2 separate regions of the Homo sapiens genome follow, and region 2 is linked to region 1. Evidence: fine-mapped expression QTL. A gene starts in region 1. The other region holds a variant in brackets. All regions are shown on one strand. Distances are between the middles of the regions. Region 1 holds the start of IL18BP (interleukin 18 binding protein). Region 2 overlaps NUMA1 (nuclear mitotic apparatus protein 1).

Region 1 (2,908 bases):
CACCACTGTGCTTCTTACTCAGTGGCACTTCCACCTCTGGCCAGGTCACTTCCAATGCTGGACACTGCTTAGCTGCTGGGAACACTGGGGGCTGGGAGGGGCAGGGGTCCTTTGTGCTTCTAACTGAGGCAGTGGCAGCTGTGGTGGTCTGCGAGACAGGTGTGGCTCTGACCAGGAGAGTGACGACGTGGGCACACAGGAGCAGGACCCACAAAGGGCTGAGGTCTGAGGAAAGGACAGTTACAGGTCAGCGGCTCTGGAGACAGAGTGGGCTGCCCGGGTAAGGATGTAACTCCAGCCCAGAGATGTCTGGGTTCTAGCCAGGGAATCAGAGCGGGAAGAGGGACCCCTCAGCACCCACCCCTTAGCCCTTTATTGAACAGAGTACAGAGAAGCTTTAGACTGGAGCCAGAGCTACAATATCTGCCCAGGTTCTTAAAGCAACAGCACCAGGTGCGCTGGGTGGTTTGCCTTGGAGTGAAGGCTCCGGGTTAGCCCATTGCTCCATTCTGTTCATAGACCTCACCCTACCCCGCCTGCCCATGCGTAGCCCCAAGGCCTACCTGGTGTCCAGTTGTGTCTCATGGTCATGATGCATGCGTCAGGAGCTGGTGAGCCTGGCTCTTTATCTGTGACAACGTCCTCTTCTCTGGTGAAAGGTGGGGGAGGAGAATGGTAAACCACTCCCGCTTTTTCTCAGTAGCTGGCTTTTCCTCAGTAGCTGGCTTCTCCTCCCGTAGCATAGCCTGGAGCTCTTTCAGCACTTAGAAACAGAGCTGGGGGGGTCAAGTGACAATCCTTCCCCACCCCAGCTCTCATGACCACAAATGGTTGTAAGATGCTTACCTAGTCCAATCTTACCCCTTCATTAGGGAAGGCAAAATTGAGACCCAAAGAGAGAATATGGACTCACCCAGTCACACAGGGAGGCAGTGCTCTCTTCAGCACCAGAGCTGCTTCTGGGAAGGGCAGGATGCCGAGCAATCCTTCTGGGAAAGCACTGCCCCGACCCTCTATTTCACTTTCACTTTTTAACCAGGGAATCTTGAGCAGCTGTGACACCTCTGCTTTAGCCAAAGTTCAGTGGCCAGAAACCTTCAGCTCCTGGGACTCCTACTCTCCAGAGGATACCAGACTGGGATCTCTAATCTACCCCCATGCCACCCCCAGGGTCACCTAGGGTATGAACTAGATGAGTCTCTCACAGATCAATTCTGTCCCGCCCAAGTGTCAGGACTTTGGTGTCCGCCTCCCCTCTTCACAGCCAGGTCTTTGTTTCCATATGAACAGGCATCTGCTTCCTCCTTCACCTTCACACTGACATTCAAGGGGACAACTTTCCTAGGCACTGGGGAACCCCAAGTTGGACCACTTCAGGCTCAATGCCATACCAGTCCGTCCACATCCTGGCCTTTCCCAGGCTACCCACTCCCCCAGCCACCAGCCCCAAGGTCGGCTACATCTCCCAGCACCCACCATCACACCCTCTGTCTCTCATCCTAGCCCCTCTGGCCAGAGCCACAGGTCTAGGTTCACTAGTAGTCCCAGACTCCTACCTGGCTCCTAAGAGGTCCTGAAGAGCCTTCCTTTCCAGAAGCTTCCCTCTAGGAGCTCCAAGACTCAAGTTAGCTGTGTCTAGCTGCGTGTGAACCCACCACAGGAAATACACCGAGAGCACTTCCTCCTTGTCTGTAGAACTCTCACGGCCAACCCAGGAACTGGCACACAAGCTCGAGAGCCAACCCTAACAGGAGGGAAGGGCAGGCACTTCCCGGGGAAGAGGCGGACTGGCTCAACACTGGCTCTGGCAACAGAGTCTACATCAGAATATGAATCTTGTCACTGATGGGACAAATGGCGCTGGGGCTGCGGGAGGGCCAGGATTCAGGGTGAGGCGTGTGAGGAACCTAGGATGCTAAATCTAAGGAGGTTTTCTCTCAGGGTCATGCAGTTATCCATGGAGGCAGAAAGACCAGGGCTGGGTGATCCAATGCATGCATATATTAAGTGTGGACAGGAGCTGCATGTCTGAGGTTTGTGACTCCTGTGATTGGGAGGGTGCAACGGCTGGTGACAGAGCCAGGGAGGCCCACAGATGGAACTGGGTTTGGTGGATGCATCAGGAACACAGTCAGCTGTGATCTCAAACTTCTTGTAGAAAAACCAGATTCATATTCCTAATTTAGACATAGGATACTACAAGTCACATCCTTCTTCTCTAGGTGTCTAGTTCATGTTTTTCCTCCTCTCAATTCCTCCCCCTACCTCCTGCCCCAGGGGCTTCTAGCATGTAAGATGCAGGAGAAATTCCTCCCAAGAACACCAGCATCTCCAGGAGTTAGGTCAGGAGGCAAGGCTGCCTGGGGTTTCTGAGAGAGACAGTCCAGTGGGGGATGGTAGGGAAAGATGACAGGACTCTGTCTTAGTGGAACCGAGACCAGAGTCAGGCCAAGGGGGGAGGTCAAGGGACTCAGAACTGTTACACATGAAAAGAGCTTTGGACAGCCTGGCCTCGGCTTCTCACCTGAGCCTGACAGGGGGGTGGGGGGAAAAAGTAAAAGGAAGGGTGATCCCTAGGTCCTCTGACCAGCCCCATTCCCCTCTCTGAGGAGGGGAACAGCCCCACAGGTGGCATAAGCAGCAGGGTACCATGGGAAGCCACAGCTGGGGAAGAGAAGCCGAGCCTGAGTGTGGTCCTCAGGAAGGCAGGTGGTGGCGGGACACTGTCCTCAGGCAGTGAGAACATAGAGCAACCTCAGTCTGAAGGCAGGCCCAATGATGCCCCAGGCCCCCAGGCCACAGGACAGGAGCCTGGCATTCCACCACTCCTAGGGATGTCAGCAGGGGAACAGCTGGGAACAGCAGAAAGGCAGGCCCAACCACCCCCAGACCCTCAGGTCTCCGATGG
Region 2 (2,908 bases), 63 kb before region 1:
CTTTCACCTCAGCCTCCCAAAGTGCTGGGATTTTGGGCATGTGCCACCACCACACCTGGCCCAAATATCAAGGTTTTGTTTTGTTTTTGAGATGGAGTTTCGCTCTTGTTGCCCAGGCTGGAGTGCAATGGCACAATCTCAGCTCACTGCAACCTCCACCTGTTCCAGGTTCAAGTGATTCTCCTGCCTCAGCCTCCCGAGTAGCTAGGATGACAGGCATGTGCCACCACGCCCAGCTAATTTTGTATTTTTTTAAGACGGGTTTCTCCATGTTGGTCAGGCTGGTTTCAAACTCTTGACCTCAGGTGATCCGCCCACCTTGGCCTCCCAAAGTGCTAGGATTATAGGCATTAATTTTGATTTGTATTGCCAAATTCCTATCCAGAGAACCACTTAATACCTGCTTATTTGTGTAAGAAAATGCACTGTTCTTTGTTTGTTTTTTGAGACGAAGTCTCACTCTTGTCCCCCAGTCTGGAGTGCAATGGCACGATCTCGGCTCACTGCAACCTCCACCTCCCAGGTTCAAGCGATTCTCCTGCCTCAGCCTCCCAAGTAGCTGGGATTACAGGTGCGTACCACCACACCCAGCTACTTTTTTGTATTTTAAGTAGAGATGGGGTTTCACCATGTTGGCCAGGCTGGTCTCAAACTCCTGACCTCAGGTGATCTGCTCGCCTTGGCCTCCCAAAGTGCTGGGATTACAGGAGTGAGCCACCGCGCCTGGCCTAAAATGCACTGTTCTTTGATTATTAATTTCTCATTCAAAATTCTAGATTAAGTTAAATTTCGTGGAGAGTATGATAGCTTTTTTTTTTTAACCATTATTTTGTAAAACCAAAATTTGGGAGAGAATGCGAGGAGAAATTAAAAAGATCACTGATATTACCTAAATGACCCTATTACTTAAAATGACCTTTTGAAGTAAGAGGAAATGAAACAAGTTACACTGAGTTCCTCCACTGATGATATGGGGAGGATGACACCTTTCCTGCCTGCCGTATAGGAACTGAATGGCTTAAAATTCTCTGGAGAAATGACTTCTTTCATGGCCAGGATCTTCAGAAGGGTACAATCTAGAGGGGAGAATTGGCCTTCCTTTCCCACAATGGTCAGGGGCCCTAGCTCTCAGCAGTTTGTTCGACTTGCTGGAAATGTGCAGCTGCTTCCTAGCGAATCTGCTAGCAAAAGGGAAGGAGACACCTGTGTTGTGTTGTGTGGTGTGGTGTGATGTGTATGTGTGTTTGTTGGGGGTGTTTAGCAGCAGACATAGTGGAGTTTGCTTTGGTTTTGTATTATTGTGGTGTGTGGGTAGGAACTACATTGTCAAAATCATTGAAGGACAGTAGGAACCAGATGAAATTAAATAAGGGGCCAGGCATGGTGGCTCATGCCTATAATCCCAGCACTTTGGGAGGCAGAGGCAGGATTACTTGAGCCCAGGAGTTTGAGATGAGCTTAGGCAACATGACAAGGCCCTGTCTCTACAAAAAATACAAAAATTAGCCAGGTGTGGTGGTACCTGCCTGTGGTCCCAGCTACTCAGGAGTCTGAGGAAGGAGGATCGCTTGAGCCTGGGAGGTTGAGGCTGTGGTAAACTGTGATTGTACCGCTGCACTCCAGCCTGGGCAACAGAATGAGGCTCTGTCTCAAAAAAAAAAAAAAAAAAAAAA[A/GAAAA]GAAAAGAAACAAGGAAGACGAAGAGTAGTGCATAGAAAATCTTTTAGTGTTGCAACCCATAAGTAAAGATAAGTCTTTTGACTTCATTTGAGTGTTTTGGGCTCTTTCCTTTGGGATTATATACCAGACCTATACTGCATATAAAGTTATTTGAAAATGAGCCACACACTGTAACATAGCCATGCTCTGGCTGTGGCCAATTAGACCATAACTAATCCCCACTGAGAAGCTTTTCTTTTTTTGTTTTGAGACAGGGTCTTGCTCTATCACCCAGATTTTGGAGTGCCGTGGTGTGATCATAGCTCACTGCAACCTCGAACTCCTTGGTTCAAGGGGTCCTCCTGCCTCAGCCTCCCAAGTAGCTGGAACTACAGGCACACAGCACTGTGCCTGGCTAATTTTTAATTTTTTAAATTTTTTTAGACAGTCTTGCTCTGTCGCCAGGCTGGAGTGCAGTGGCACGATCTCGGCTCACTGCAGCCTCCAACTCCTTGGTTCAAGTGATCTCCTGCCTCAGCCTCCTGAGTAGCTGGGATTACAGGCACACGCCACCACGGCCAGCTAATTTTTGTATTTTTAGTAGAGATGGGGTTTCACCATGTTGGCCAGGACAGTCTCGATTCTCCTGACCTCGTGATCCGCCCGCCTCGGCCTCCCAAAATGCTGGGATTACAGGTGTGGGCTACCGTGCCTAGCCTAATTTTTTTTATTTTTTGTAGAGATGGGGTCTCGCTAAGCCTTCCTAAGTACTGGGATTGCAGGCATGAGCCACTGTGCCCAGACCTGAGCTTTTCTTTAGTTTTTAACTCTTGTTTTTTTTGTGTGTGTGCGTTTTGTTTTTTCGACATGGAGTCTCACTCTGTCTTCCAGGCTGGAATGTGGTGGCACAATGGCAGTTCACCACGGCCTTGGCCTCCCAGGCTCAAGCAGTCCTCCCACCTCAGCCTCCTGAGTATCTGGGATTACAGGTGCATGCCACCACAACTGGCTATTTTTCTAATTTTTGTAGAGATGGAATCTCGCCATGTTGCCCAGGTTGGTCTCGAACTCCTGGGCTCAAACAGCAAGCAGTCCACCACCTTCAGCCTCCCAAAGCACTGGGATTACAGGTGTGAGTCACTGTGCTTAGGCAAGTTATTGTTTCTGTTTAGACCCCAGTAGTAAATATTTTAGGCTTTGCAGACCATGTGGTTGTAACTACTCACCTCTGCCATTGGAGAACAAAAGCAGCCAT

The links. PIP is the estimated chance that this variant, and not a neighbour inherited with it, causes the effect. A credible set is the group of variants that fine-mapping cannot tell apart.
Region 2: its variant is the best candidate, but not a certain one, in a credible set for the expression of IL18BP in whole blood (INTERVAL, PIP 0.59).

The regions. Positions count from the first base shown.
Region 1 is chr11:71,997,668-72,000,575 of GRCh38, reverse strand. It overlaps IL18BP (interleukin 18 binding protein), which reads right to left and starts at 1,667. Exons shown (of 6, transcript NM_001039660.2): 1 at 1,557-1,667; 2 at 564-649; 3 at 19-225. The coding sequence starts at 591.
Region 2 is chr11:72,060,252-72,063,159 of GRCh38, reverse strand. All of the region lies in intron 2 of NUMA1 (nuclear mitotic apparatus protein 1), which reads left to right. Among named protein-coding and RNA genes, the nearest start is that of MIR3165, 11 kb to the left of the region's middle. The variant A/GAAAA (reference allele first, on the strand shown) is at 1,674.